Linked DNA regions of Homo sapiens: region 2 is linked to region 1. The links come from fine-mapping of genetic effects on gene expression. A gene starts in region 1. The other region holds a variant in brackets. All regions are shown on one strand. Distances are from middle to middle.

Evidence for each region. PIP is the estimated chance that this variant, and not a neighbour inherited with it, causes the effect.
Region 2: its variant is fine-mapped to the expression of SIRT5 in whole blood (TOPMed, PIP above 0.99).

Annotation. Positions count from the first base shown.
Region 1 is chr6:13,573,170-13,576,082 of GRCh38, forward strand. It overlaps SIRT5 (sirtuin 5), which reads left to right and starts at 1,432. Exons shown (of 10, transcript NM_012241.5): 1 at 1,432-1,575. It overlaps LOC105374937 (a long non-coding RNA gene), which reads right to left and starts at 1,265. Exons shown (of 2, transcript XR_926497.4): 1 at 796-1,265; 2 at 1-52. RefSeq lists a silencer at 985-1,504 and enhancers at 1,197-1,783, 1,715-2,194, 1,784-2,369.
Region 2 is chr6:13,604,200-13,607,112 of GRCh38, forward strand. All of the region lies in intron 9 of SIRT5 (sirtuin 5), which reads left to right. It overlaps LOC105374938 (a long non-coding RNA gene), which reads right to left. Exons shown (of 2, transcript XR_007059460.1): 1 at 2,232-2,913. Among named protein-coding and RNA genes, the nearest start is that of NOL7, 9.7 kb to the right of the region's middle. The variant T/A (reference allele first, on the strand shown) is at 1,442.

The DNA of each region.
Region 1 (2,913 bases):
ATCCCGGGCCAACCGCAGTTGTTTTAAGCTGGGTTACCTATAGATAAAGAGACTAGGAAAAAAAATCAAACAAACAAAACGGTTTAAAAAACAATGAGCATTTTCAGCTGTCTACTGTTTAAGAAAATAATGAGCTCTCAGTTTTGCCCTCTGAGCGATTTCTCCAGGACTGCCCTGGTAACACTACTACTCAACAGTTTTGTGCTTTGCGCAGTTACTTGACCTCCCTGGGCCTCGGTTTCCCCACCCATAAAGTGGGGATAACAGTACCTATTTCATCAGGTGGTGGGGACGATTTAAAATGGTTAATAATGTGCAGTTCTTAAAAGTGTCTGGCTCAGAATAAGCACCATACACGTTAGGGGGAAAAACAGCAGCCGGATGTGAGGCCCTCCCCAATTTCGTTACTCCATAAACCTCTGAGTTGCTGGTAACACCTGCAGGAATGAGAAGGGCCTCAACATGGGCTGAATTTCCAGCCAAACTGTGGGAAGTGGCTGAGATTTTAGGTAGGCAAAAAATGTTAATGTAACATTTTTGGCCCCCAAGTTCTCAGACCACTTACTTCCCTTTCTAGTCCACTGACATGCCCGCAAGCAATTCCATTCTGCCAAGTGGTGCTGGTGGCAAGCCGGAATCCAAGAAAAGGAAAGACTCCGATTTTAAGGGAACGGGGACATGCGGAGCCACGTGAGTCACTGGGTCCCAGAGCCACGGAAGGCTCTCAGCTCAGCAGTCAGAGTGCACTCGTCATTGCGTTCGAGGTTAGGTGGCCTAGCCTGGGAACCAACTCACCGTCATTTGAAATCGTTTTAGGGAAAATGACCCTAACATTTAAAATCCTCTCTCCTGAAGTTGTGTGGTCCAGCCGTTTGCTGAAGGAGGAAGCAAAGCCGGTAGTAACTCACTACATATTTGGGCAGTGGAATGAACCCTGGAAGCTGACAAAGTCGAAGCAAGTCACTGCGCCGCCCCCCACCCCCACCCCCACCCCAAATAAAAACAGAGAGACAATCCTTCAATTATAAAGAAGACCACGGCGCCCGGGTCTCCGGCAGGGGCCGCTGCAGCCGAGCAGAACGCTGAGCCGCTCCGCCCCACGGCCTCCTCTCCAGCCGGCGCGCCCGCCTCCCGCAGGTGCGTCTCTGCCTGCGCCGGGCCGGGGTCTCCGCGGCCTCTCCCGCTCGGGCTCCGGCTTCGAGGTCCCGACCAAGCACTGCTCTCGCGGGACTGCGCGCACCGCCCAGGGCCTGCCGCGGGCTCGCGAGCGGAGGTGGCACCGGTCCGCGGTGCGCATGCGCGGCCCGGCCTCTGCCCTGCGGTCCCGGGCTGGTGACTGGCTAGCGGTTGGAGGAAGGGATGTGGGGGATGGTGGGTGGGTACAGAGAGCTGGGAGGGAGGCACCCCGGGGGGCGGGGCGTGGGAGACTGTATTCGGGGGCGCGAGCTGCCCCAGGTGAGCCGTGGCTCAGGTCCGGAGCGCGGTCGGGACACAGCGCCTCTAGGAGAAAGCCTGGAAGGCGCTCCGGGGGTACCCAGAGCTCTTAGCGGGCCGGCAGCATGTGCGGGGCCCAAGGTCTTCCGGGCTCTGCGTGGGGGTCGCTGCGGCTGGAGACCAGGGAGGGGGATGGAAACGGGGTTGGAAAGTAATCCCACCCGAGCAGGTGGGCATGGGAGGCCGCTGTGCTGGGGAGCCCCGCGAGGGCTCCGAACAGAGCCTCCCTTTTCAGAAAGGTCACCCTGGTCATTGCAGCTGCCAGGGTGACCGAGGAAGGTGGCCGGGGTGGAGGCAGTGGGCGTGGAGAGGGGTCGGATTCCGGACGTAGTTTGAAGGTGGAGCCGTCAGGTTCTGCTGAGCAGCTTGGCTATGGGGCGTGCGAGAAGGGAAGGCTCAGGGCCTAGTCCCTGGGCACGAGTAGTAGCCGGGAGGATGAAGTCCCAGTGCTTCGGGGGGAGGCGGCTTGAGGACGGCTCTGGAGCTCAGGCTTGCCCGCGTGGAGTGGAAGCTGCCTCTTGGACACAGGGCGGGGAGGCCGCATGCAGTCTGGCGCGCTGGGAGGATGGGAGATCCAGAGGGGCAGGGCTGGAGGGGTAGGAGGAAAACCTGAAGAGGGTGGCGCCCGGAAGCCCGGGAAAGTGATGAACTGGGTCAGAGGCCGGGTATCAACAAATAGGAGGGTGGAGACGACCTTGAGGAAAGCAGGTGATGGAACGGGAGGGAATGGGGCCCCCTAGTGGAGACACCTGGGAGTGATGTATTGCATTTATTTAGCTCTTAGGCGTTCAAAAATTATTTATTGGGAGCCTGTACAACTTTTTGCAGTTCATTGCATTATCCTTAGCATGTATTTTGTTTTATATAAATATATATTTATATAATTATTTTTATTGACAAATTTATATATTTATAGCGTACAGTGTAATGTTTTGATATATGTATACATTGTAGAAAGATTAAATCAAGCTAATTGACATATCCATCACCTCACCTACTTATTTTTTGTGGTGAAAATCTACTCTCCTGGAAATATACAATACATCATCAACTATGGTCACCATGCTGTGCAGTAGATCACTAAAACTTACTCCTCTTACCTAACTAAAACTTTGTATCCTTTGACCAACATCCCTCCCTTCCACATCAGCCCTCTGCCAGGCCCCTGGTAACCATCATTCTACTCTGCTTCTATGAGTTCAACTTTTTTAGACCCCAAGTATATAAGTAAGATCATGTGCTGTTTGTCCTTCTGTGCCTGGCTTATTTTACTTGGCCTCATGTCCTCCAGGTTCATCCATGTTGTTGCAAATGACAGAATTGCCTTCTGTTTTAAGACTGTATAGTATTCCATTGTATATATGTGCCACATTTTCTTTATCCGGTCCTCAGTTGATGGATACTTAGTTGCTTCTATAT
Region 2 (2,913 bases), 31 kb after region 1:
TCAATAAAGCTGTTAGATAAAAAGTTAAATGATCTTCTAACTTATCTCCTGAAAAATGCACATTGAGCCTCCGTCTGATTTGTGTTGTGGCACCTATGTGGAGCAGCTGGGCCACTTAGCATGACTAAGCGTAGTAATACCGGAGCTAGGCAGCTCAAGCCTCCTGTCTGTTTGAAAGACCATCAGAAAACTCGAAGAGTGGGACAGGATAAACTTTGTGAAGCAGGACCTGAGCTATGTCCCCAGTTTGGTTCTTCTAATGTGGTTTCTTTTCAGTCATTTGATCTCCATCTCATCTCTAATTATTATAAAGAATTAAAACAAGTCATCATTGTAGAAAAGCAAGAAAATGCAGATAGAGAAAAAGAAGAAAATAAAACTGGAGTATTTCCACAACCCAAGTTTAGAGTTGGCCCCCACCTCCCATGCCATGGACTGAGCAGCAGGGGCCCAGCATCCCTTGGATATGGTGGCTGTGTCTTCATGTGAAAGAAACTGAACTTGGTGGTTTTTCCTGCCAGTTCAGGAGAGATTCTTGGCATGTAATATATATCACTGCTCAAGTCAAGCCTCCTAAAACCACAGACCTGTTTCAGCTGCTACTTCAGCCAAAATTCTTCAGCTTCATATTGTCTTGAAAACCTATGATTGTCTCTAACAAACAGGCTACTTGCTAGTTAGAAATTCTTATCAATTTGGCAAGCTACTTATCAACCAGACTGACCACAAGAACTGTCATCTCATCAATGAAGGAGTAACTGATCAATGAAGCCAGCAATGCTTTTTTCTTGGCATCATCAAAGCTGACATTTAGAAGAGATGCTGGTGATAGTCATCTCATCCTACTCAATTTTTCAAAGGCAGAAACCAACCCTGGAGCAATTGAGAGGACTGTTTAAACACAGAGCTTAACAATGGCAGAATTGTATATCTCGTGCTTAACAGATTTTGGTTGAACTTTACCCTAGGTCAGGGGTCAGCAAACTACTGCCTGTGGGCCAAATTTGCCCACCACCTGTATCTGTAAATAAGGTTTCATTGGAACACAGCTGTGGCCATATGTTTGTATATTGTGTGTGGCTGCTTTTGCATTAGGATGACAGAGGTGAATAGTTGCAACAGAGACTGGCTGGTCTGCAAAGCCTAAAATATGTCCTGTGTGGCCCTTTACAGAAAAAGTTTTCTAACCCCTGCTCTAGGTTACGGAGAAAAAAAAAATGGAATAATGTTCTCTGCTACTTTTAACCTGATTTTCTTTGTTACCTAAATAGGCAGCTAGAATGCTGCCTATATTTTAATAAGGATTTGGATCTCACAAGACACCTTAGGCCTTACACAAGTTGTTCAGATTCTTTGCCCCAGTTCTAATCTAGTGACAAAGGCATAGAATTCTCCTCCCACAGGAATGTATTTCTATTTTCAAGGTGTTAATTAGTTCCAG[T/A]TTTGGTTTTGTCGTTTTCCCCATGTCCGATGCTTATATTGGATGATTTCTGATAAACCCTGACTATTCCAATAAACCCTAGGCATTTTTGAATTTAAACCTCAGTGTTTTGACTGTTACTCAACCCCAGGGGGCCTTGGCTTGTAGGATTTGTACATTCGCTGAGGCAAAAATGGGACTGTCGCTGCAGGGAGCTGGTGGCCAGGGCCTTCAAAGCACCTTTGGCCCACTGTGCCCTGCAGCCACTATGTTGTGCCCTGTTGATCTTTAAATTTCTCTAAATGTTGGAATTTAATTAAAGTCCACAAATATTTGTAAGTATCCACTATGTATCAGACACTTTTCTAAGTGCTTAAGATAGGATATATCAGTAAACAAAACAAATATCTACCAAGGAAAGATTATATTCTAGTGGTTGAGGCAGACAGGTAAGCAGTGAACATAAGGTACACATTCTACAGCACGTGAGCAGGTGCTAAGAGACTGCACAAAGTAAAGATGCACAAACCTCATTAAGAAGAGATTGGAGCAAAGACTTGAAGGAGGTGAAGGAGGCAGCCGAAGACATAATCTGGGATAAGAGCTTTTCAGACACTGGGACCACCTGGAGCAGAGGCCCCTCAGTGTGGCTGGAGTGGAGTGAGGAAGTCCCAGGAGAGGCGAGCAGTAAAGTAATGGAGTTGGGGGCTCTGGGGAGGGAAGACACCCAAGCTACCTGCTGTTGGAGTTTAGAAGTCTAAGGAATTGTTAGGTAGAAGAGTTTTATAGATTGTTGTGGTTATATAGTTACCTATCTAGGGTGTGAAGAGGTCACTGCTTTGAAGCGATAGTTGACCGTGTGTGTTAGGGAAGTCCAGCGCTCTCCCTGGCTGTGCTGTCAAGGGCGGGTAGGGAAGCCCTCCTAGTCCATGCAGTCAGGGCTTAGTTGGTCTGTTCATTCAAAAAGCCACTGAAAACAAGACTAATAGAAAAGGACACATACATACTTTAAACATTTTGATATAAAGCATAAATCTACCTTCATTTGCTTTTTGTTTGTTTTTTGTTTTGTTTTGTTTTAAGACAGAGTCTTGCTCTGTTGCCCAGGCTGGAGTGCAGTGGCGCAATCTTGGTTTACTGGAAACTTTGCCTCCCGGGCTCAAGCAGTCCTCCCACCTAAGCCTCCCGAGTAGCTGGGATTACAGGCGTGCACCACCACACCTGGCTAATTTTTGTATTTTTAGTAGAGACGGGATTTCACCATGTTGGTCAGACAGGTCTCAAACTCCTGGCCTCAAGAGATCCACCTGCCTTAGCCTCCCGAAGTGCTGGGATTACAGGCGTGAGCCAACACACTTGGCCTGCTTTTTTTTTTTTTTTTGGAATAGAGCTAAAGGCCTTTTGTTTGAGTAGGGATCTGCTGATTGGAGCTCACCTTTCTTGTCGTATCCATAATCTTCCTCGTGTTCCCCAAATACCCCTGAAGATACGAA